7 linked regions of the Homo sapiens genome follow. The protein of the gene in region 1 interacts with the protein of each later gene in a biochemical or structural test. Each region holds a gene or a part of one and is shown in the gene's direction. Other genes may lie near its edges.

Region 1 (3,500 bases):
GAGGCAGAGCAAAAGGACAAGGGTAAGTAAACCTGTAGGTCGGGACAAGCCAAGAGCCATCCAGCGTCAGTCCTCTCTGGGTAGCCCAAGTAAAGCAGGAGCATACCCCAGAGAGAAAGTTCGCAGGGCTGTTCACCTGCAGTGCTGTGGACTTCAACCTTCTTGTTCCTTCTTCAGTAAGTGAAAATAACAGTCATTGACCATGACTATTATCGACCGCTTTTGAAAATGTAAACATAGTGACTTTATTGCTGTAAAAATCATACGTGTTTATCATCTTAAAATTCAGGAAACATGGACAGGTACAAAGATGTGCAAAATATCATCCAAAATCCCATTTGCTGGCCAGGCACGGTGGCTCACGCCTGTAATCCCAGCACATTGGGAGGCCGAGGCGGGCAAATCACTTGAGGTCAGGAGTTTGAGACCAGCCTGGCCAACATGGTGAAACCCTATCTCTACTAAAAATACAATAATTAGGCTGGGCGCAGTGGCTCACGCCTATAATCCCAGCACTTTGGGAGGCCGAGGTGGGCGAATCACAAGGTCAGGAGTTTGAGACTAGCCTGGCCAATATGGTGAAACCCCATCTCTACTAAAAATACAAAAATTAGGGCCGGGTGTGGTGGCTCACGCCTGTAATCCCAGCACTTAGGGAGGCCGAGACAGATGGATCGCGAGATCAGGAGTTCGAGACCAACCTAGCCAACATGGTGAAACCCCATCTCTACTAAAAAAATACAAAAATTATTCGGTTGTGGTGGCACACGCCTGTAATCCCAGCTACTTGGGAGGCTGAGGCAGGAGAATCTCTTGAACCTGGGAGGCAGAGGTTGCAGTGAGTGGAGATCCCGCCGTTGCACTCCAGCCTGGGCGACAGAGTGAGACTCCATCAAAAAAAAAAAAAAAAAAAAAAAAATTAGCCGGGCGTGGTGGCGTGCACCTATACTCCCAGCTACTTGGGAGGCTGAGGCAGGAGAATCGCTTGAACCTGGAAGGCGGAGGTCGCAGTGAGCCGAGATCGTGCCATTGCACTTCAGCCTGGGCGACAGAGCGAGACTCTGTCTCAAAAATAATAATAATAACAATAACTAGCCGGGCCTGGTGGCACATGCCTGTAGTCCCAGTTACTCAGGAGGCGGAGGCATGAGACTCAGGTGAACTAGGGAGACAGAGGTTGCAGTGAGCCAAGATCACACCACTGCACTCCAGCCTGGTTGACAGAGCGAGACTCTGTCTCAAAAAAAAAAAATCCCATTTGCTCATTTTTTGGATACTAGTATAACTATCACTCTAAACCAGTTAGTACTTAAATCAAGCAGATATGGGAGATGGTGAATTACCATCTACAGTGTTGTCATATATGTCACATACTGAGCATTATCAGCTAGTAGAATCTAGTTAATTGTTCTATGTGTGATGTATGCAGAGTTCCCATTTTGAATGTGTTTTTACTATGCTTAAATAAATGACTGATGTCAGCAACCCCAAAATGATACATCTGATGTAAGAGCCCCTGTTCCCCAATAATAACATCTAAACTATAGACATTGGAATGAACAGGTGCCCCTAAGTTTCCTCCCTCCAGGGTTTCTTGGCCGGTCTCTGAGGACTACACATCCCTACTCCCGTCTTTCCTCATCTTCAGGCGCAGTAACAGTATCTCCAAGTCCCCTGGCCCCAGCTCCCCAAAGGAGCCCCTGCTGTTCAGCCGTGACATCAGCCGCTCAGAATCCCTTCGTTGTTCCAGCAGCTATTCACAGCAGATCTTCCGGCCCTGTGACCTAATCCATGGGGAGGTCCTGGGGAAGGGCTTCTTTGGGCAGGCTATCAAGGTGAGCGCAGGCAACAATTGCTTTGCTCTTCTGCCCCCAGTCCCTCTGTCACTGTCTTTCGGGGATTTCTCATCACTTGGCCCCACCCCACACCATGCAGGATGCCAGGCCTCCTTCCTGGCTTTGGGTGTTGGTGTGAGAGGTATCCTTCACCCCCACCCAGGCCACCTAAGGTCAATGTTGCTGTTACAGTGAGCTTGTGGACCTGGAGATCCAGGTTGGGTTGAGCTGTGCCTGTGGCCCTCCTGCCTCCAGTCAGTGGGTGTTTGTTAGGTGCCTGCAGACCTCAGTACCGGGCATGCTACAAGGAGCACACAGGGGAATGGCTCCTGCCTCCCTGGTGAACAGTCTCAGGGACTAACCTCTCTCTTTCTCTCCTCCTCCTCCTCTTCTGCTGAGAACTGGGAGGGGGGGTCAGGTAAGACGTGTGTCTCAGCTTGGGGGCAGCAGGGCTGGAGAGCTCACCCCCGATCCACCCAGCTCCCTGGTGCATGTCTTTGGCACTGACCTTCCTGCCCCCAGACTTCTGTTCACTCAGGAGACTCACTTCTATGCCAAATGACCAGAGCCCCTGCTTGGCTTGGCAGCATCCCCTCCTGCCTTCTTCCCCACTTCCCTTTTCTGGGTTCTTGCCTGTCCTCTGTGCATGCCCAGCTCTCCAGGAAAGAGGGTTTGCTTCCGTGTGAGTCCCATGTTGCTCCACGCTGCATCTTCCACACATGAACTCTGTCATTCTGACCCGGCTCAGTGTGCCCTCCAAGGGATGGGATGGCCAGCTGCATAGATTTTCTCAAACAGTTCTCCAGAACTTCCTCTGGTCTCAGCACCATTAACAGTCACCCTCCCTGTAGGTGACACACAAAGCCACGGGCAAAGTGATGGTCATGAAAGAGTTAATTCGATGTGATGAGGAGACCCAGAAAACTTTTCTGACTGAGGTAAGAAGATGGAGGGGGCCCGGGAGGTTGGTGTCACCATTGGAAGAGAGAAGACCTTACAAATAATGGCTTCAAGAGAAAATACAGTTTGGAATTACTGTCTTAAAGACTAAGCAGAAAAGAGCCCTAGAGGAATATCCCACTCCCTCTAAATTACAGCGTAATTATTTGTTCAATGAACACTTACTAAAAGCAACACAAACAGGGTACAAGGGATGCAGTAACAAAAGATACAGGGTTCAGAAGAGCTCTCAGGTTATGAGGATGATGGACATGAAAACACTCCAATTTAGTACAACTCAATGTTATAATCCTCACCTGAACGCCCTGCTAAGGGAGCCTGGAGGGGAGCTCCCTGAGCACTCACACTCCTTGGGCATTTACAGTTTTCACTACCCCTCCCAAGTTACTTCATGGAGTAACTTAAGTTGGGGACACCTGTGGTCTGGGTATTGCCCTCCAAGCCACTTGGCCACTCCCACCCCAGTTCTCCCAATGCAGTTCCAAGGGTAAGGCCTATGAAGCCATCTCCATCTATATGGTGGTGGTCTTCCCTCATCCTGATCTTAGTGCCCTGTCATATCACAAGATAGGAGGTAGGAGATACAGGTGGTAACACTTGTCAAGCTGATTCCTTGGAGGGAAGAGGTAAGGAAGACAGTGAGAAGTTAACCACCAGCTTTCCTTGGCTTCCCCCACCCCCAGGTGAAAGTGATGCGCAGCCTGG
Region 2 (3,500 bases), on another chromosome or scaffold:
ATGACCCAGAGTACTAGCCTCCCTTTCCCTAGGGAACCTGTCCCTTAGAAAAGGTTCAGCTGTCTACCAGGTAGGGAGAGACACAGTAGAGGTGAGTGTGGATAGGTCAACTTACAGTGTAACCACAGGGGAGAGAGGGAAACCTGGGTTGGAATGCTGGCATTTGCTCCCCTGCCCTTCCTTGAGTGTGGTATCATCACTGAAGAGTTCCGCGTGGGCAGGGCAGAACTGCTGCCCTGCTTCTGGGTCATTCTCTGAGTCCCAGTGTTTACTATTGATGTTTCTGACTCAAGCCCTTCTAGCTTTGCCCTTTCAGGGGCAGGCATACCTCAAAACCGTAGACTGGTGTGAAGGTGTGGGTTGCCCCTCCACACCTGTGGGTGTTTCTCGTAAGGTGGAACGAGACTTGGAAAAGAAAAAGACACAGAGACAAACTATAGAGAAAGAAATAAGGAGACCCGGGGAACCAGCGTTCAGCACATGGAGGATCCCGCCAGCCTCTGAGTTCCCTTAGTATTTATTGATCATTCGTGGGTGTTTCTCTGAGAGGGGGATGTGTCAGGGTCACAAGACAATTGTGGGGAGAGGGTCAGTAGACAAACACGTGAACAAAGGTCTTTGCATCATAGACAAGGTAAAGAATCAAGTGCTGTGCTTTTAGATATGCATACACATAAACATCTCAATGCTTTACAAAGCAATATTGCTGCCCGCATGTCCCACCTCCAGCCTTAAGGCGGTTTTTCCCTATCTCAGTAGATGGAACGTACAATGTCTTGGTTTTATACCGAGACATTCCATTGCCCAGGGACGGGCAGGAGACAGATGCCTTTCTCTTGTCTCAACTGCAAGAGGCATGCCTTCCTCTTATACTAATCCTCCTCAGCACAGACCCTTTACAGGTGTTGGGCTGGGGGACAGTCAGGTCTTTCCCTTCCCACGAGGCCATATTTCAGACTATCACATGGGGAGAAACCTTGGACAATACCTGGCTTTCCTAGGCAGAGGTCCCTGCGGCCTTCCGCAGTGTTTTTGTCCCTGGGTACTTGAGATTAGGGAGTGGTGATGACTCTTAAGGAGCATGCTGCCTTCAAGCATTTGTTTAACAAAGCACATCTTGCACAACCCTTAATCCATTTAACCCTGAGTTTGACACAGCACATGTTTCAGAGAGCAAGGGGTTGGGGGTAAGGCCATAGATTAACAGCATCCCAAGGCAGAAGAATTTTTCTTAGTACAGAACAAAATGGAGTCTCCTATGTCTACTTCTTTCTACACAGACACAGTAACAATCTGATCTCTCTTGCTTTTCCCCACACTGGTGAGTCACTCCTCCTTTCCTCTCCCTCTACTCCCAGGAGTGAATTGTTCCCTCCAAACTAGAAACTGGTGACTGGCACTTCCTAGTTCTACCTGGAACTAGGAAACGAGTGGCAGTGGAATTTCAGTGTCCTTTAGTCTTTGCCTTCTGGCTCCAGATCACTTTTTTTTTTTTTGAGACGGAGTCTCATTCTGTTACCCAGGCTGGAATGCAGTAGCATGATCTTGGCTCACTGCAACCTCCACCTCCCGGCTTCAAGCGATTCTCCTGCCTTAGCCTCCCCAGCAGCTGGGACTACAGGCACGCGCCACCACGCCCGGCTAATTTTTTGTATTATTTATTTATTTATTTGTTTTTGAGACAGAGTCTCTCTCTGTCGCCAGGCTGGAGTACAGTGGCACGATCTCGGCTCACTGCAAACTCCACCTCCCGGGTTCATGCCATTCTCCTGCCTCAGCCTCCTGAGTAGCTGGGACTACAGGCGCCCGCCACCATGCCTGGCTAATTTTTTCTATTTTTAGTTGAGACGAGGTTTCACTGTGTTAGCCAGGATGGTCTTGATCTCCTGACCTCATGATCTGCCCGCCACGGCCTCCAAAAGTGCTGGGATTACAGGCGTGAGCCACCGCGCCCGGCCCCTAATTTTTTGTATTTTTAGTAGAGACGGGTTTTCACCATGTTGGCCAGGCTGGTCTCGAACTCCTGACTTCAAGTAATCCTCTTGCCTAGGCTTTCCAAAGTGCTGGGATTACAGGCGTGAACCCCTGCACCTGGCCACTCCAGACCACTTTTACCTCACCATGTTGCTCTTCAGTTCCTTTGTGATCATGTCTTGTGGAGTCTCCAGCCCAGTTCCGATTCAAGATAGAGCTACTGTGATTTTTTTTAAAAAAATTTAATTAGAATAGGTTAATTGACATGGTTTTATAATTAAAATGATATCAAAGGGGTGGGGTATCTCATTCCCATGTTGCTCCTGTTCACCCCAAACCCCAATAGTTTCTAATGTCTCTTCAGTGTTTCATTTTACAGATACAAGTATATATAAATAATACTTGTTTTTTCTCCCCTTTCTGACACAAAAAGAGGCATACTACATATATTCTACATCTTGCTTATATATATATATCATGGAGTTTTGTTGTTGTTGTTGTTGTTTTTGAAACAGGGTCTCACTCTGTTGCCCAGGCTGGAGTACAATGGCATGATCATAGCTCACTGCAGCCTTTTTTTTTTTTTTTGAGACAAAGTCTTGCTGTGTTGCCCAGGGAGGAGTCCAGTGGCGTGATCTTGTCTCACTGCAGACTCTGCCTCCCAGGTTCAAGTGATTCTCCTGCCTCAGCCTCCCGAGTAGCTGGGACACAAGCGTGCACCACCATTCTTGGCTAATTTTTGTGTGTGTGTATATATATATATATATATATTTTTTTTTTTGAGATGGAGTCTGGCTCTGTCACCCAGGCTGGAGTGCACTGGAGCAATCTCGGCTCACTGCAAGCTCCGCCTCGCGGGTTCACGCCATTCTCCTGCCTCAGCCTCCCGAGTAGCTGGGACTACAGGGGCCCGCCACCACTCCGGCTGATTTTTTGTATTTTTTTTAGTAGAGACGGGGTTTCACCGTGTTAGCCAGGATGGTCTCGATCTGCTGACCTCGTGATCTGCCTGCCTCGGCCTCCCAAAATGCTGGGATTACAGGCATGAGCCACTGTGCCCAGCCTTTTGTACATATTTTTTTAATTTAATTTTTTTTTTTTGAGATGGAGTCTTGCTCTGTTACCCAGGCTGGAGTGCAGTGGCGTGATCTCGGCTCACTGCAAGCTCTGCCTCCCGGGTTCACGCCATTCTCCTGCCTCAGCCTCCCAAGTAGCTGGGACTACAGGCACCCGCCACCATTCCCTGCTAATTTTTTTTTTTTTTTGTATTTTTAGTAGAGATGGGATTTCACCATGTTAGCCAGGATGGTCTTGATCTCCTGGCCTTGTGATCTGCCCCCATTGGCCTCCCAAAGTGCTGGGATTACAGGTGTGAGCTGCCCGGCTAATTTTTGTATTTTTAGTAGAGATAGGGTTTCACCATGTTGGCCAAGCTGGTCTTGAATTCCTGACTTCAAGTGATCCGCCTGCCTTGGCCTCCCAAAGTGCTGGGATTACAGGCATGAGCCACCGTGCCTGGCCTCACT
Region 3 (3,500 bases), on another chromosome or scaffold:
TTCAAGCGATTCTTCTGCCTCAGCCTCCTGAGTAGCTGGAATGACAGGTACACGCCACCACACCTGGCTAATTTTTTTGTATTTTTAGTAGAGACGAGGTTTCGCCATGTTGGCCAGGCTGGTCTTGAACTCCTGATGTCAACTGATCCGCCTGCCTTGGCCTCCCAAAGTGCTGAGATTACAGGCGTGAGCCACCATACCCGGCCTCATTTTATTTTCATAGACAATTTTTATAACCATTTATTGAGATAATTAATGTATCATAAAAATCCACCTTTTGAAAGTGTAAAATTCAATAGTTTCTAGTATACTCAGAGATGAATATATTAAACCATTATCTGGTTTTAGAACCTTTTCTTCACCCCAGAAAGAAATCCCATACCCACTGGCAGTCATTCTGCATTCTTTGTCTCCCAGTCCTTAGTAACTATTCAGCTATTTTTGTCTCCATGATTTGCCTATTCTGGACATTTCCTAAAAATGGGATCATTGGACGGGCACGGTGGCTTATGCCTGTAATCCCAGCACTTTGGGAGGCCCAGGCGGGCATTATCACAAGGTCGGGAGTTCGTGACCAGCCTGGCCAATATGGTGAAACACCGTCTCTACCAAAAATATAAAAATTAGCCAGGTGTGGTGGTGGGCGCTGGTAGTCCCAGCTACTCAGGAGGCTAAGGCAGGAGAATTGCTTGAACCTGGGAGGCAGAGGTTGCAGTGAGTCGAGATCATGCCACTGCACTCCAGCCTGGGCGACAGAGTGAGACTCCATCTAAAAAAAAAAAAAAAAAAGGATCATCATATATGTAGCCTTTATGTGTCTGGCTTCTTTCATTTAGTATAATGTTTTCAAGGTTCATTCTTGTATATATCAGCACTTTATTCCTTTTTATGACTGAATAATATTCCATTGTATAGATATGCCACATTTTGTTTATCCATTCATCATCTGATGCAGAGTTCTGTTGTTTCTGCCTTTTGGCTGTTATGAATAATGCTGCTTGAACAGTTTCCTTAAAGGATATAAGAGAGCTGTTAACAACTGCTCCTGGGAAGTATAACAGGGAGACATACTGTTTACTTTTTTGTACTAGGTGATTTTTTTTTTAGCTAAGTGCATATATTACTTTATAATGAAAACAAAAATACCCAATCACTAATATTATGATGGGGGTAAGTAATTGTACTTTTTGGTTTTAGTTTCCTCATTTTAAGTAAAATTGGGCTAAATGTTTGTTGAGGTCCTTTTTAGCTCTCAAATTTTGTTTGTGATAACGTGAACGATAATGTTATAGGCTTTTTTTTTTTTTTGAGACGGAGTTTTGCTCTTGTTGCCCAGGCTGGAGTGCAATGGCACGATCTCGGCTCACCGCAACCTCTGCCTCCCAGGTTCAAGCGATTCTCCTGCCTCAGCCTCCCAAGCAGCTGGGATTACACGCATGCGCCACCACGCCTGGCTGATTTTGTATTTTTAGTAGAGACGGGGTTTCTCCATATTGGTCGGGCTGGTCTCGAACTCCCGACCTCAGGTGATCCACCGACCTCAGGTGATCCACCCACCTCAGCCTCCCAAAGTGCTGGGATTACAGGCATGATCCACTGCGCCTGGCTATTGGCATTTTTCTTCATGAATGAGAGTTGTATTCTTTATATCTGCTGTGTAACTTGCAATTTGTTTTCATCGTAGGACTGAGAGTGGCTTTCACAATGGAAGGGATCAGTAATTTCAAGACACCAAGCAAATTATCAGAAAAAAAGAAATCTGGTAAGATAGCAGATGTAAGATTTTTTTTTTTACTATTGTTGTTTCTCTTAGAAATGTCCTAGTATTATTTAGTTTGATCCTTTATTATCGGTCACTTAGAAACTTTAATGTAACTCCCCTTTATGATGTTAATCTTAACAAATAAGACTTATTTTATAGGCCACGGTTTGATCATCTCTGGACTAATTTTATTGACAATCTAACAGGTTTGGAGGCTCTCCCTGCCCAAGAATCAACTTAGCTTGACCCATTAAGGAACTGCTTTACCTTTCTCCCTCTCATCCATACATTGCTCTTGTGAGGGAAAGATATTTTCCAAGGCAACTCAATGGACAAAGGAAAATCTTTTCAACAAACACCTAGATATCCACGTGCAAAAAATAAGCCTTGACCCTTAACTCCTATTATATAAAAAATAGCTACAATTAAATTTCTAGAAAATAACATGAGAAAATATTCTGTTGTCCATTTCTAGTGACAGATTTTTCATATTGACCTTGTATCCTGCAACCGTCCTAAACTCACTTATTCTATTAGCTTTTTAATAGATTGCTTGGGATGTTGTATATGGTTGGTCATTTGTGGATGAAGAAAGACAGTTTTACTTTGTTCCCCAGTCTGTATGGCTTTGTTTCTTTTACTTTTTTTAATTGCACTGGCTCCAGTATGTTTTTGAATAGAAATGTTAGTGGATATACTTGCCTTGTTCCCAATGTATTATGTTAGATGTAGGTTTTTCACAAATACCCTTTATTAGTTTGAGGAATTTTTCTTCTATTTCTAGTTATTATCGTGAGTGGGTATTGAACTTTGTAGAGAGCTTTTTCTGAATCTATTAAATTTTCTTTTAAAATCTCTCAATGTGGTAAATTATGTTAATTTTCAAGTGTTAAACTGAACTTCCTTGTGTAAAGCCAGTTTGGTCATGATATATTTTATATATTGCTTGATTTGCTGATATTGTCTATATTCATGAGGGATATTGGACTGCAGTTGTCTTTTTGGGATATCTGTCTAGTTTTAATATTAGGTTATTCTGTATTCATAAAGATGAGAAATGTTTCTCTTTTTTTAATAGAAATATCTTTTTCTTTAACTTTGTGTAGAATTGGTATTATTCCTCCTTAAATTGGTGGAATTCACTAGTAAAGCTATCTGGGCCTGGAGTTTTCTTAGTAGGAAGAGTTTAACTGTGATTTCACAGTTAATAGATATAGGGCTATTCAAGTGATCTCTTATTTTCTTTGTGAATTTTGTTAGTGTTTTTTAAGGAATTTGTCCATCACTTCTAAATTTTCAAATGTACTGGTGTGAAGTTATTCTTGATACACCCTTATTAACCTTCTAGTGTCCTTTTTCATATCTGGTACTAGTATTGTATATTTTCTTAATTTTTTTCCTTAATCAGTCTGACTTGAGGTTTATGTATGTTGGTGAATGTTGCATGCACTTGAAAAGGGCATTTTTTTCTACTCTTACTGGGTACGGTGTTCTACAAATGTCAATGTTCTACAAATGTCAATGATATTCTGTATACTTTTTATATTAATTATGAGAGAAGAGAGTTGAAGTTTCCAACTACAATGTGGATTTGTCTGCTTCCCCCCACCCCCAATTTCTATCAGTTGTTGCTTCATGTATTTTGAAGCTTTGTTATTAGGTACATACACATTTAGGATGGTTATTTCTTTTCTTTTTCTTGTTTTTTTGAGTTTCCTTTTGTCACCCGTAATGGAGT
Region 4 (3,219 bases), on another chromosome or scaffold:
GTTGTATGGCCAGGCCCAGGGGCTCTCATGGGGTTCAAGGCCAGCCTCCCATACAGGGTCACCCTAGAATGGGAGCTGGGAGTTGGTGGTGGGGAGATGTTACCACATTTCGGTTATTTAACATTCAAGCCTTCATTCCTGCCTGTGAGATGAGGGGACTCAGGATTGTAAGTGAGGCCCATACATTCACACAGACATTTACTAAGCTGTGGATACATCATAGTGCTATTAATTTGAGGGGTGCAAAATCTCACAGTGCTTAAGTGGGTGGACTTCAGAGCCTGTTCACCACAGTTTGAGCCCTGGCTCAGCCACGTCCCTTTACCTGAGCCTCCTGGGCCTCAGTTTCCTTGTTTACAAAAGAGAATAGTAATGAATAGGATGGGCCTAGGAAGTTTGTGACAGTGAGAGGCCACACGGGGACGCAGCACAGTGCCCGGCTCATAGGAGGTGCTCGCTGGGTCTCATGGGTGCCCGACAGCACGTGCTTGGCAAACACTATGGAGAGGTGGGGCAGACCCGAGTCACAATGGCTGGGGAGGGAGGAGGAGGGATGGGGTGGGGCTCCCCCACCTGCTGACCCCGTGCCCTCACTGCCCGCAGGCTTCCTCATCTTCATCTGGTACTGGTCCATGCGGCTGCAGGCCCGGGGTGGCCCCTCCCCTCTGAAGAGCAACTCAGACAGCGCCAGGCTCCCCATCAGCTCGGGCAGCACCTCGTCCAGCCGCATCTAGGCCTCCAGCCCACCTGCCCATGTGATGAAGCAGAGATTCGGCCTCGTCGCACACTGCCTGTGGCCCCCGAGCCCGGCCCAGCCCCAGGCCAGTCAGCCGCAGACTTTGGAAAGCCCAACGACCATGGAGAGATGGGCCGTTGCCATGGTGGACGGACTCCCGGGCTGGGCTTTTGAATTGGCCTTGGGGACTACTCGGCTCTCACTCAGCTCCCACGGGACTCAGAAGTGCGCCGCCATGCTGCCTAGGGTACTGTCCCCACATCTGTCCCAACCCAGCTGGAGGCCTGGTCTCTCCTTACAACCCCTGGGCCCAGCCCTCATTGCTGGGGGCCAGGCCTTGGATCTTGAGGGTCTGGCACATCCTTAATCCTGTGCCCCTGCCTGGGACAGAAATGTGGCTCCAGTTGCTCTGTCTCTCGTGGTCACCCTGAGGGCACTCTGCATCCTCTGTCATTTTAACCTCAGGTGGCACCCAGGGCGAATGGGGCCCAGGGCAGACCTTCAGGGCCAGAGCCCTGGCGGAGGAGAGGCCCTTTGCCAGGAGCACAGCAGCAGCTCGCCTACCTCTGAGCCCAGGCCCCCTCCCTCCCTCAGCCCCCCAGTCCTCCCTCCATCTTCCCTGGGGTTCTCCTCCTCTCCCAGGGCCTCCTTGCTCCTTCGTTCACAGCTGGGGGTCCCCGATTCCAATGCTGTTTTTTGGGGAGTGGTTTCCAGGAGCTGCCTGGTGTCTGCTGTAAATGTTTGTCTACTGCACAAGCCTCGGCCTGCCCCTGAGCCAGGCTCGGTACCGATGCGTGGGCTGGGCTAGGTCCCTCTGTCCATCTGGGCCTTTGTATGAGCTGCATTGCCCTTGCTCACCCTGACCAAGCACACGCCTCAGAGGGGCCCTCAGCCTCTCCTGAAGCCCTCTTGTGGCAAGAACTGTGGACCATGCCAGTCCCGTCTGGTTTCCATCCCACCACTCCAAGGACTGAGACTGACCTCCTCTGGTGACACTGGCCTAGGGCCTGACACTCTCCTAAGAGGTTCTCTCCAAGCCCCCAAATAGCTCCAGGCGCCCTCGGCCGCCCATCATGGTTAATTCTGTCCAACAAACACACACGGGTAGATTGCTGGCCTGTTGTAGGTGGTAGGGACACAGATGACCGACCTGGTCACTCCTCCTGCCAACATTCAGTCTGGTATGTGAGGCGTGCGTGAAGCAAGAACTCCTGGAGCTACAGGGACAGGGAGCCATCATTCCTGCCTGGGAATCCTGGAAGACTTCCTGCAGGAGTCAGCGTTCAATCTTGACCTTGAAGATGGGAAGGATGTTCTTTTTACGTACCAATTCTTTTGTCTTTTGATATTAAAAAGAAGTACATGTTCATTGTAGAGAATTTGGAAACTGTAGAAGAGAATCAAGAAGAAAAATAAAAATCAGCTGTTGTAATCACCTAGCAAACTGGCGTAAGCATTTTGGGTCATTTCCTTCTGAGCTTTTTCCTGTGCTTCTATTGAAAGAGTCACTGATACTAATACAAATACCTTGGGGCCAATCAGGAAACATGAAAGAGAGAAGAGGGCTGTGTGTGAAGAAAAAAAAAAAATCGACTGCTGGAAACCTCATCAACCAGGGCACAGGGGAAGATAAATGGCAACTTGGTGTCTGTGCTGGGGAGGCAATGGGGAGTGGTGGGGCCTGTGGCGAACTGGAGACTCCCAACCCCATGCTGAGAGCGTGGCTGCTCATCAGCTCCAGCTGGTCACTACCTTGCAGGGATGAGGGCCCATGTAGCCAGACCACCTGCCTTTTATGAGAAATGGGAAATCCAGACTGTGGTTTGACATCCCCTGATTTTAAAATTTTGGCGAATCCAAAACATTTTCTGGCCAAAGAGATTACAGTCAAAAGCTGCCTGGTCCTGGGATTTATGCAACCAGTTTACTGATCACTCTGCAGCAGGTGGGCTGCAAGAATTAAATCACTGGACTTCTCTCCCATCCCTGCCTTTAACCTTGTTCCACCAAATCAATCTCTCCTCCCGCTCCTAAGGCCCAGGTGAGGCAGATCACGCAGGTTCCCATCTTCCCTGTGATGAGGGCAGTCACAACGGATCATTGCTACTGTGTTCAGGTAAGAGGTCCCAGTGCAGCCAAAGTCCTCCCCAAGGCCCACAGTCCACTCTCTCCCTTCTGCAGGCTCCTCCCTCCTCCCCTGGCCACTCTAGGGGGATGCCCAGCAGGGGAAGAGGCTCAGAGTCTTGGATTGGACAAGGTGGGTGTGAGGCAGCTGGGTCTAGACTGGCAGTGCCCTCTGAGGGGCGTGAATGTGGGATCTTGGGACCTGCAGGGACCAAGAACCCCTGTGCCCTGCTGCTCTCCCAGCCCTCCCTCCACCCCCTCCACTCCCTCCACTGACCTCTGTCCCCACCTTTCTGCAGGTGGGGGGCTCCTCTTATGCCCCCAGCTCCAAAGGACAGAGGCCAAACCTTCCCAAGCCT
Region 5 (3,500 bases), on another chromosome or scaffold:
GGAATTGTGATGCTTTTCCAGACATTCACATTGCATCGCAAAAACGTGAGACAAAACACTGTGGGTGAGGCTGAAGTTTAACATCCTCCCTCAGTGCCCTTTCCTCCTCTTGTCCCCAGGGATGATCACTCCAGGAGATGCGTGTTAACATATATAAGCACCTTAACGTGTGCATCTGTTTTGTGTGTGTGCTTCATGGCTAGCTGAGAAATCTGGGTGTCTTTGAATTAAGGAAATGGTGTGGCGGTGCTCATGAACCCCCCCGCCCCCCCATGCTCATGGTTTATCCTCCATCTTGAAGGGCCGGTCTCTCTTCAGGGGTTGAAGGGTCTGGTGAGAGCAGAGGTTTCTGTGGTTTTGCCAGTGAGGCTCCGTTCCTAGTGGCTACCTCAGGCAAATAGAGGGTTGAGGGAGCCTGCTGGAGGCTGGCAGAGATACCCGCCCCTACTCACGCCTTTACAGTCTCTTCAGTACTTGGCTTTGAAGGGAGTGAGGCTGAGAGATTCAAGTGGTTTGGGATTCAAGTCTGGATGGGGCAAGCTCCTCCCCTGACCTGCTGAAGGAGAGGAGGGCCTCTTTCCCCTTCAGTCTGCAGATTCTCCGAGGCCCTTCTCTTCCCCTGGGAAGGGTGCTTGCTTCTGCATTATTCACCGGCTTGGGAAGGGATGGGTTGAGTTTCCCTGCTTCCTGGGGATATCAGATCCTGCCTGGCACCTGACCCCTAGTCCTGATGGTGGGGCTGTGGGTGCCAGCTAGTTGCAGAGGTCTTTCCTGAGGGGTCGCTGGGTCCCTTCAGGAAAACATCATTGGGTCTCTTGATTCCCCAGCCTCTAGCCCTGCCCCTCTCAGGGACGACCCTGGGGTCAGGCCCCTCAGCCCTCGAGGGGGACCAGGAGCCAGCCTCCTCTGTCTTCTCTGGCTCCCCAGCTCCTCCTGAGCATCCTCAGGTATCTTACACCCCGGGGGCATTTCCAGGCCCCGTCCCCCTGGTCCCCTCATGGTCCCTGGACTCGCTTGTGGACCCAGGAGGCCTGTTAATTCCCTTCCTCCATTGAATCCCTTCCCTTTGGGGGTGGCCTCCCTGGGGCTTGGGACATAGCCACCAGCGCGCAGGGTGGGCTGGGCCCGCATCCTTACTCCGCTTATCCCGTGCCCCTCCTCTCACCCTTGCCCAGAGCGGGACAAGGAGAACCGGCATCGGAAGCGCAGCCACAGCCGCTCTCGGAGCCGGGACCGCAAACGCCGGAGCCGGAGCCGCGACCGGCGCAACCGGGACCAGCGGAGCGCCTCCCGGGACAGGCGACGACGCAGGTACTAGGGCTCAGGGATCCCCTGGGCCAGCCTGGGAGTCGGGGGGTCGGTGTTGGCCGGCCTGTGGGTGGCCTGTGTGTGTCTGTGTCTGGGTCCGGGCCCTGTGTGGCTCGTTCGTTCTTTGTGTGGATCTGGGGGAGGGATCTACTGCTTGGTCTGTCTTGGATTCCGATTTTTTCCCCCGTTTCTGGGGTTTCTTTCATTTTCTGTCTTGGTGGTTGCTGGTGGGTTGCTGGGGGCAATAGGCTCTTTATCTGGAGCCTGGGAATTGATTCTGTGTTTTCCTTCACAAGGGGTTGTTCTCTGTCTCTGACTCTGAGGGCCTGTTCCTTCTTTTCGACTCTCTGTGGCTCTCTGTGGGACTCTCTTCGAGGGGGTTGGTCTCTGCCTCCAGTTTCTTTCTTCCCTGCCTCCCAGGAGAAGGGAGCTCTTGGGACCGAGGCAGTATCCACAGCCTGGGCTGACTTTTTGGCCCAGGGGTGTCGGTTTCCACCGCCTCTTCCCTTCTAGGCTCCCCTTTCTGTTCTCTGCCTCCTTAGGTGAGGAAGGGCAGGATAGGCGGAAGTCCTCCTGCCTCCTCCCGGCTCAGTTTCTCCAGCTAGAGACTGGTCCTTCCTGGCCCCTGGCCCCTTTCTCCTTTCCTCACTTCCTCTTTCCTGGGGGTGGGAGTGTTTGGGGGGAAATGGCAGGGCCGAGGGTGGCCTGCTTGCTGCTTGTTGACCTCGGCCCTGCTCCCACCCTGGGGCTCAGTGCCCTTGGGGGGGTGTGGCATGTGGGGAAGACGAGGGTCCCCAGTCACCCCTCCCCATACCTTTCCCTCCCACCCCCCAGCAAACCTTTGACCAGAGGCGCTAAAGAGGAGCACGGTGGACTGATGTGAGCTTCTCTTCCTGCCCCTTCCTCCCTGATGTCCACTCCCTTCACCTTCCTCACGCCCGTGCACCCTGTCCCGCCCATTTCCAGCCCTGGCCCAAGCACTGGGAAGAGTCCACTTACCTTGAAACCAGCACCCCTTTCCCAGGCCCTGCCCCAGACCCTCTCCTTCCCTGGAGAGAGTGGAGCTTACATGGTTGCGGGGAGGGTGAAAGGGTGCCTGGGAGGGGGCTCGCAGGCCCACTGTTGGTCAGACTGAGGTTGCCCTGCCCCGCTCTCCCCTCCCACCTCCCCCAGTCGTTCCCCCCGCCACGAGAAGAAGAAGAAGGTCCGTAAATACTGGGACGTGCCACCCCCAGGCTTTGAGCACATCACCCCAATGCAGTACAAGGCCATGCAAGGTAGGCCCCTGGCCAGGCTGCTCCCAGAGCGGGAGGGTACAGGGGTTGGGATTCTCCGTCAGTCATTCCCCTGCGTGTGTGCTTGGAGGGGGTCAAAGACACAGGTAGAGGGTTGCACACCCCTGGGGGTTCTGGTCTCTGCGCTTTTGAAGCCTCCCTAGAGGAGGAAATGACCAGAGACACCCGTGGTTGACAGGGGAATGAGGCCTCCATCTGGACGCCATTAGGAAGTGAGGCTTCTGAGGAGCAGCAGTTACTGGGTGGGGGCCCCGAGGGTGGAAAGAGGGTTCTGGAAGGTGCTAAGACCGAGAGCCTGTAGGAGCTTTCTGCTGAGGAGGGGAACTCCCAGTGTGTGGTGAGGGGTGGTCACTGAGCATTCCCCTGATGGGGTTTTATCCGGCTTTTATTCCCTTTGAAGCTGCGGGTCAGATTCCAGCCACTGCTCTTCTCCCCACCATGACCCCTGACGGTCTGGCTGTGACCCCAACGCCGGTGCCCGTGGTCGGGAGCCAGATGACCAGACAAGCCCGGCGCCTCTACGTGGGCAACATCCCCTTTGGCATCACTGAGGTACTGCCCTCCCCTGCCCCCTACCCTCTCCCTTGTCCCTCTACCCCGTTCCTCCCCTTCCCTCCATTCCCTTTCCCCAACCTGCACGGGTCAGACTCTGCTCCTGCAAGACCCCCCGGCCCCCTCCCAGACGGACCGATGGAGTTGAGCCAGCCAGGGGCCGGGCTGGGGGTGGCCCTCCCTCCCTCCTCTTCCCCTCTCCCGTCTCCCCTCCCCCCAACCTCCTCCAGCAACCCAGGGATCAAGCACACACATAATGTACCCACGTGTTGTACCTACGTGTCGGAGAGAGACAGAGAGGGAGACTTGGACACACACACACACACACACACACACACACACACA
Region 6 (3,500 bases), on another chromosome or scaffold:
AGAGAAGACTAAGTGGTAGAAAGAGAGCAGTTAGTTTCATATCTGGCTAACCTTAAAAGGGAACATTTCAAACTCAATAATTTAAAGGGCTCACCTCATGGTAAATGAATCTGTTGCCAAATAGCTATTAAGGGCATATAGTCTTTACATTGTGAAAGCCTCTGTAGGGGAGATGGAAGCATTAGACCAAATTTTTATCTGTAAGGAATTTATAATCTAATTGAGAAAACAAATCACATGAAATAACTGTATAAAAATTTATACCAAATAACATTAATGCCAAATTAATAAAATGAAGAGCAAAACGAACATGGAGGAGCCATTTTTCACTAATCGAATCATCAAAACAAAAAAATTAATGATGCTAACTAGTATGAATGAAGATCTTCTCATACAATGATGGTAGGAGATTAACTTGTTGCATTGTTAAAGAACATTTGCCAGTGGTATTAAGAAGCAATAAAAATAGGAATGCCTTTGACTGAGAACTTAGGCTAATAAAGATGTGCACAAAACTTATGTGTCAGGGTATTTTACAGTATTCATTTAAAAATAACTGAAAAGGTATTTTAAAACACATTATGATTAGAATATCACATCATCACTAGAAATCATGTTGGAAAAGTATAAAGGTATTTTAAAAATTGTTCATATTATTTGGTTACATTAAAAACTCAACAGTGTAACCTCAATTTATTTAAGTAAAATACATTTATAAAATATATTTATATATAAGTAAAATATTTTTAAGTAAAATATAAATATTTTTAAAATATTTTATTTTATAAAAGTAAAATTATATATGTAAAGATGATCTCTGAGTAATGAGATTATGGGCCTTTTGTATTATTCTGAGTGCTTTCCTCTATTTTTCAAATTTTCTGAAGTAAGAATGTATTACTTTTGTAATCTGATGGGGGGGAATGCTATTTCCAAAAAAAAAAAAAAATTTATTTGACTACTTGATGGTAGGAGGTCCAAGAAGAGGGAGATTACAACTGGGTTACTTTATAACATTGGGCAAGCCACTTAATCTCACTGAACTTATTTCTTTAAAAAAAAATTGAATAAGAAAATCTATCCACTCACATCACAAAGTTTTTCCAAGATGAAACAATATAGTCCATGAGCATGCTTGGCAAAATATAAAGAGCTTAGCAAAAGCATGGAATTGTATAGTTATTTTTATTAGACAAGGAAAGTCATCAAGTGTGGTCCCTGCAAGGTGGAAGAGAGAAGGATACTCGACCTTCTTTTGTCACTTTAGGTCCCCTCTCCTTCCACTCACACTCCTCTGTCCCCAGCTTTCTCAACTCTGTTTGTGGCAAAGAAGGCTCCATCCAGCTGTGTGAGAAATAAGAGAAATAAGAAAGACATTACAAGGAGAAACAGAAGTAGGAAAGAAAAAAAAAAAGGCTGTGTTCTCCTCTAACTCTGATAATGTTCTTCTTAAAAGCTTTTAGGTAATAAGCTTCTGAGATGTGTGAGATCATGGTGTTTTCTGTCACTCGATTGATTAAGAACAAATAACCTTTATTAACAGTGGTTTTCTCTGGGGGTGGGAATACTAACAGCTTCATTTTTTATACAATGCTTTCCTGAGTTATTTTAATTTTGGCAAAATAAACATGATTTGCTCATACATTCTGAGAGAAAACATAGTTCAAGCTTGAGGAGAAAAAAAAAAACCTAAAACTCCGGATTAGTTGAGACACATATTGAAGGAAATTTTTACAATTGGAAAACATCAGGCTATCCCTGAAATTGCAATGACTACCATAAATGTTTGGATAAGACAATCACAAAATGATGCCACTGTCAGAGAAAAACCCTGTTTAAAATGTGATTTGGTGATCCACTTGTTCTATGCTACATTTACTCTTTTTTTTTCTCCACCTACAGGCACTGCTTTGTTATCTGTGGTGGCTTTTCCCTTGGAAGATTTCTATCTGGGCACTTACCATGCAGTTAACAACATACCAAAAACAGAGCAGCACAGGCTGTTTTATGTAGCACTGCTGACCATTTGCCTTGGCATTGGAGGCGTAAGAGCCATCGTCTGTCCACTGGGTGCTTTTGGCCTTCAGGAGTATGGATCACAAAAAACGATGTCTTTTTTTAACTGGTAAGTAGCACTGGCTAGGAGAGAAAAGAGGCTTATGACCATTCTCACTGTTTACTTTCTGATTCCATTTGGGTAGTAGTTGCTCAGTCTTTGTGATGAATTGGGCTAAGTGATGATGTGATGAATCTGTGATGATGATTCAGTCAGTAATCACAGGAGCTTCTAAGTCTCATGCAGACCAGTACAACTCACCAGCACCTTCCCAACACACGCGGACACATTTATCCTCCAGGTAAAAAGATTTGAAGTGCCTTGTCCTGCAGAATAGAATGTGGCTTTGGAACCAAAGAGACCTGGGTGGAAGTCTGGACTCTGCTTAACACAGGCTGACTGACCTTGACCTAGTCATTTATTCTCTACCTCAGTTTATTCATTTCTGAAGGGGGATAATACCTCCTCTTCTCCGGTTTTATTAGAGGTAACACCATGTGTATTGCTGGCAAAGAACTTGGCACATAGTAAGTGATCAAAAAATGGTAGCTGTTAGTATGTCTGTATTGTAATAGACTAATTTGGCAGAGATTATAAATTTCTAGGCCAATGCAGAGAGAAGATGCAAAGATGAAAGAAGTATTTTGCAATTTGTTAAAGCATCACCCAGCATCTCTGTTTCTCACCCAGTTCGCTCCCAACACCTAAAAGAGTTTATATTCCATGAAAATCAAACAGCCTTCCTGTGAATCTTTGTCTCTCCCAACGAGTTCTTATGGAGTTCGTCGGTTTTTGTGTTTTTTAAGGAAACAATTTATATTACCAAATACAAATTCAAGAAAACAAATTAATATATGGATCTTAAGGGAGGGTAGTTAAGAATTTAGTATAAAACTTCTTTGTTATTCTTTGTTATCTATCAGTGGATGTCAAACAGATGTGAGCTACATTGTCCATTTTTAGAGTAAATAGTGTCTATATGTGTATGTATAGGCATATGTAGCTATCCGAGGCAGTTCCTCTTTTCTCTTTCTTTCTTTTTCTTTCTCTTGCTCCCCTTTTTTCTTTCTCCAATTATATTAATATTACAAAGCACTCAGCCCTATTTTGGATTAAGTCCTAATGTCAGAGAACAATGCAGTCTTACCAAAGGTAGAAGGGACTCTTTACTTCCTTGCAGCAAATTCTGCCTCCTTGACCTGCCCAAAGGAGAAAGAAAAATCCTTCTTTTTTATTCTATTCGGAGGTTTTAATCCTTAATTAGCAACATCATTTTGATTAAATAAGACTCTGGAGGATTAAGACTGGAGAGCAATCAGTTGTTCTGAAAGATAGCTCTGGAGAATTTATTGTACTGTGGTCTTAGTCATTCAGAGTTGTGTTTAATCAAAGTGACATTTCTCAGTGTTGATTACAAAGGAGACATTATATGAATGAAATATTT
Region 7 (3,500 bases), on another chromosome or scaffold:
ACATAGTTTGACTGATATCTTTTTTGTCCTCTGAACATCTTTATTGTTACAGTGGTATGCAGGAGGCATGCCTCTGGTATTAATCTGAGTTTAAATCATGGCTCTAACACTTACTGTGTGAGCCTGAACAAATTGCTTTACCCTCTCTCAACTGCACTTTTCCTGTCTATAAAATGGGGTTGTGGTATTTCATTTATAAGGAACTTGTGTGGATTAAATAGGGCATTGTGTGAAAGTACTTACAGCAGTGCCTGGCTCATTGTAGGCACTTACTTAAAACCGGCCTTTATTATTTTATTATGCATGGTCCCTAAAACAACTCTAAGATTAATAAGGAGAGTGGGCAGATTCTTGTTACTTACAAAGCTATGTCCTTCCTTCGCTTATCCTCAGATTTTTGGAAACTATTTTAACTGTTTTTTTTTTTTAGATAATTAATGATTCACAGGAAATTGCAAACATAGTCAAGTCCTTACCTTTTACCAGTTTCCCTCAGTGGCTACATCTTACATAACTATTGTATAATATCAACACCAGGAAATTGACATTGGTACAATGTATATGTAGTTATATGCTATTTTATCATATGTAGATTAGTGTAACCACCACTACAATCAAGATACAGAACTGTTCCACCACCACAAACCCTTTACAGCCTTAGGCACTCCCTCTGTCTCTCTACTGTCCCTGTCCTCTGGCAGCCACTAACCTGTTTTGTCATTTTGAGACTATTATATAAGTTGAATCATACAGTATGTGATCTTTGGAGATTGCCCTTTTTCACTCAGTGTGATGTCCCTGAGATCCATCCCTCTTTTTCATTGCCGAATAGTGTTCCATGGTATGGATGTACCATGGTTCACCTATTGAATCATTCCCGTATAAGAAAGGACATTTTGATTATTTCTAGTTTTTGGCTATTATAGATAGAGCTTCTATGAAAATTGGTGTTCAGGTTTTTGTGTGCATGTAACTTTTCATTTCTTTGGTCGTATGGTAAATACAATTAGCCCTCTGTATCCATGGGTTCCACATCAATGGATTCAGCCAACCTGGGATTGAAAATATTTTCAAAAAAACATTGTCTGTACTGGACTTGTGCAGACTTTTTTTTTCTTGTCACTGTTCCCTAAACAATACAGTATAACAATTATTTATATAGCATGTACATTGTATTAGGTATAAATAATCTGGAGATGATTTAAAATATAGGGGAGGATGTGCATAGGTTATAAGCAATTATTATGCCATTTTATATGAAGGACTTGATCATCTTGGATTTTGTTGCCCTGGGAGGCTCTGGAACCAATCCTCCATGGATACCAAGGATGACTATATATATTTATTTTGTTTGTTTGTTTTTTAAGATACTGCCAAAGTATTTTCTGGAGTGTCGGTACCATTTTACATTCCTGTCAGCGGTGTAAGAGAAATCCATTTTCTCCACATTCTTGCCAGTATCTGGTATTGTCACTATTTTTATTTTAGCAATTTTAATAGACGTGTGGTGATACATCATCATGATCTTAATTTGCATTTCCCAAATGGCTAGTGATAATACACATCTTTTCATATCATCATTTGCTGTCTATATATCCTGGTCAGTAAAATGTCTCTTTATACCTTTTGCCTATTTTCTAATTGAATTTTGTGTGTGTGTGTGTGTGTGTGTGTGTATACATATACATATATATATATATATAATTTTTTTTTTTGAGACAGAATTTCACTCTTGTTGCCCAGGCTGGAGAGCAATGGTGCAATCTCGGCTCACTGCAACCTCTGCCTCCCGGGTTCAAGCGATTCTCCTGCCTCAGCCTCCCGAATCGCTGGGATTACAGGTGCCTGCCACCACACCCAGCTACTTTTTTATATTTTTAGTAGAGACGGGGTTTCACTGTGTTGGCCAGGCTGTTCTCGAACTCCTGACCTCAGGTGATCCACCCGCCTCAGCCTCCCAAAGTGCTGGGATTTCAGGCGTGAGCCACTGCGCCCGGCCCTTGAATTGTATATTTTTTATTACTGGGTTTTGATAATTTTTTGTAGATCACAGGTGCAGCTTCTTTGTATGGTTTGCACATATTTTCTCCCAATCTGTTGCTTGTCTTTCCATCCTTTTTGTTTGTTTGCTTGTTTTTATTTTGGTTGTTTTTTTTTTTTTTTGAGATGGATTCTCACTTTGTCACCCAGGCTGGAGTGTAGTAGCACGATCCTGGCTCACTGCAACCTCCACCTCTTGGGTTCAGGCGATTCTCCTATGTCAGCCTCCCGAGTAGCTGTGATTACAGGCATCTGCCACCATGCCCGGCTAATTTTTGTGTTTTTCAGTAGAGACGGGGTTTCGCCATATTGGTCAGGCTGGTCTTGAACTCCTGACCTCAGGTGATCCGCCCGCCTTGGTCTCCCAAAGTGCTGGGATTACAGGCATGAGCCACCACGCCCAGCCTGTTTGTTTTTGTTTTTTTGGGGAGGGTCTCACTCAGTTACCCAGGCTGCAGCACAGTGATGTGATCATGGCTCACTCTAGCCTCAACCTCTGGGGCTCAAGTGATCCTCCCACCTCAACCTCCTGAGTAGCTGAGACCACACGTGTGCACCACCACACCTGGCTAATGTTTTTTTTTTTTTTTTTTTTTTTGATAGAGGCAGGGTCTCTCTGTGTTGTCCAGGCTGGTCTCAAACTCCTGGGCTTAAGTGATCCTCCCGCCTTGGCCTACCAAAGTGTTGGGATTACAGACAGGAGCCACTGTGCCTGGTCCTTTCTACCTTCTCAGTGGGATACTTCACAGAGCAAAAATTTTAAATTTTGTTGATATCCAATTTACTAAGTTTTTTTTTTTCTTTAATGGATCATGTTTTTGGCATCATATCTAACATACCAAGTCCTAGATCCCAAAGATTTTCTCCTTTGTTTTCTTCTAAAAGTTTTATAATTTTAACTTTTGTATTTTAATCTGTCATCCATTTGAGTTAATTTTGTACAGGTGTGAGGTTTAGGTCGCCATTTTTTTTCTTCTTGCCTAAGGATATCCAGTTGCTCTAGCACCTTTTGTTGAAAAGATTAATCTTCCATTGAATTGCTTTTGCACTTTTTTCAAAAATCAGTACAACCTGTAATGTAACAATGATTTTTTTTTTTTTTTTGAGACAGAGTCTCGCTCTGTGCCAGGCTGGAGTGCAGTGGTGTGATCTCAGCTCAGTGCAACCTCCACCTCCTGGGTTCATGGGAATCTTATGCCTCAGCCTCCTGAGTAGCTGGGATTACAGGCGCCCACCACCACACCCAGCTAATTTTGTATTTTTAGTAGAGATGGGGTTTCACCATGTTGGCCAGACTGGTCTCAAACTCCTGACCTCAGGTGATGTGCCTCCCACAAGTGCTGGGATTACAGGCATGAGCCACTGTGCCTGGCCTAACAATGGTTTTTACAATTTAAAATAGTTGGAACGACCTTGTAGCGCATGGAAATCATACGAAATTTAAACTGTGTCCAGAAATA

The links.
Region 2: the proteins of LIMK2 (region 1) and F11R interact in a test that uses a peptide from one of them, tested with the Homo sapiens proteins (one large-scale study listed by IntAct).
Region 3: the proteins of LIMK2 (region 1) and PBK interact in a test that uses a peptide from one of them, tested with the Homo sapiens proteins (one large-scale study listed by IntAct).
Region 4: the proteins of LIMK2 (region 1) and ADGRG1 interact in a test that uses a peptide from one of them, tested with the Homo sapiens proteins (one large-scale study listed by IntAct).
Region 5: the proteins of LIMK2 (region 1) and U2AF2 interact in a test that uses a peptide from one of them, tested with the Homo sapiens proteins (one large-scale study listed by IntAct).
Region 6: the proteins of LIMK2 (region 1) and SLC15A5 interact in a test that uses a peptide from one of them, tested with the Homo sapiens proteins (one large-scale study listed by IntAct).
Region 7: the proteins of LIMK2 (region 1) and RSBN1 interact in a test that uses a peptide from one of them, tested with the Homo sapiens proteins (one large-scale study listed by IntAct).

What each region holds. Positions count from the first base shown.
Region 1 is NC_000022.11:31,264,298-31,267,797, forward strand, and holds part of LIMK2 (LIM domain kinase 2), read left to right. Parts: intron 1-1,648; coding exon 1,649-1,835; intron 1,836-2,686; coding exon 2,687-2,773; intron 2,774-3,478; coding exon 3,479-3,500. UniProt on the Homo sapiens protein: Serine/threonine-protein kinase that plays an essential role in the regulation of actin filament dynamics. Acts downstream of several Rho family GTPase signal transduction pathways.
Region 2 is NC_000001.11:161,014,653-161,018,152, reverse strand, and holds part of F11R (junctional adhesion molecule A isoform 1 precursor), read left to right. Parts: intron 1-3,500. UniProt on the Homo sapiens protein: Seems to play a role in epithelial tight junction formation. Appears early in primordial forms of cell junctions and recruits PARD3.
Region 3 is NC_000008.11:27,831,318-27,834,817, reverse strand, and holds part of PBK (lymphokine-activated killer T-cell-originated protein kinase), read left to right. Parts: intron 1-1,684; 5' UTR 1,685-1,704; coding exon 1,705-1,762; intron 1,763-3,500. UniProt on the Homo sapiens protein: Phosphorylates MAP kinase p38. Seems to be active only in mitosis. May also play a role in the activation of lymphoid cells.
Region 4 is NC_000016.10:57,662,849-57,666,067, forward strand, and holds the end of ADGRG1 (adhesion G-protein coupled receptor G1 isoform b precursor), read left to right. Parts: intron 1-603; coding exon 604-734; 3' UTR 735-2,719; downstream 2,720-3,219. UniProt on the Homo sapiens protein: Adhesion G-protein coupled receptor (aGPCR) for steroid hormone 17alpha-hydroxypregnenolone (17-OH), which is involved in cell adhesion and cell-cell interactions.
Region 5 is NC_000019.10:55,658,035-55,661,534, forward strand, and holds part of U2AF2 (splicing factor U2AF 65 kDa subunit), read left to right. Parts: intron 1-827; exon of another isoform or gene 828-947; intron 948-1,175; coding exon 1,176-1,311; intron 1,312-2,142; coding exon 2,143-2,187; intron 2,188-2,481; coding exon 2,482-2,585; intron 2,586-3,003; coding exon 3,004-3,155; intron 3,156-3,500. UniProt on the Homo sapiens protein: Plays a role in pre-mRNA splicing and 3'-end processing. By recruiting PRPF19 and the PRP19C/Prp19 complex/NTC/Nineteen complex to the RNA polymerase II C-terminal domain (CTD), and thereby pre-mRNA, may couple transcription to splicing.
Region 6 is NC_000012.12:16,271,186-16,274,685, reverse strand, and holds part of SLC15A5 (solute carrier family 15 member 5), read left to right. Parts: exon of another isoform or gene 1-161; intron 162-1,249; exon of another isoform or gene 1,250-1,344; intron 1,345-1,902; coding exon 1,903-2,125; exon of another isoform or gene 2,126-2,139; intron 2,140-3,203; exon of another isoform or gene 3,204-3,500. UniProt on the Homo sapiens protein: Proton oligopeptide cotransporter.
Region 7 is NC_000001.11:113,805,977-113,809,476, reverse strand, and holds part of RSBN1 (lysine-specific demethylase 9), read left to right. Parts: intron 1-3,500. UniProt on the Homo sapiens protein: Histone demethylase that specifically demethylates dimethylated 'Lys-20' of histone H4 (H4K20me2), thereby modulating chromosome architecture.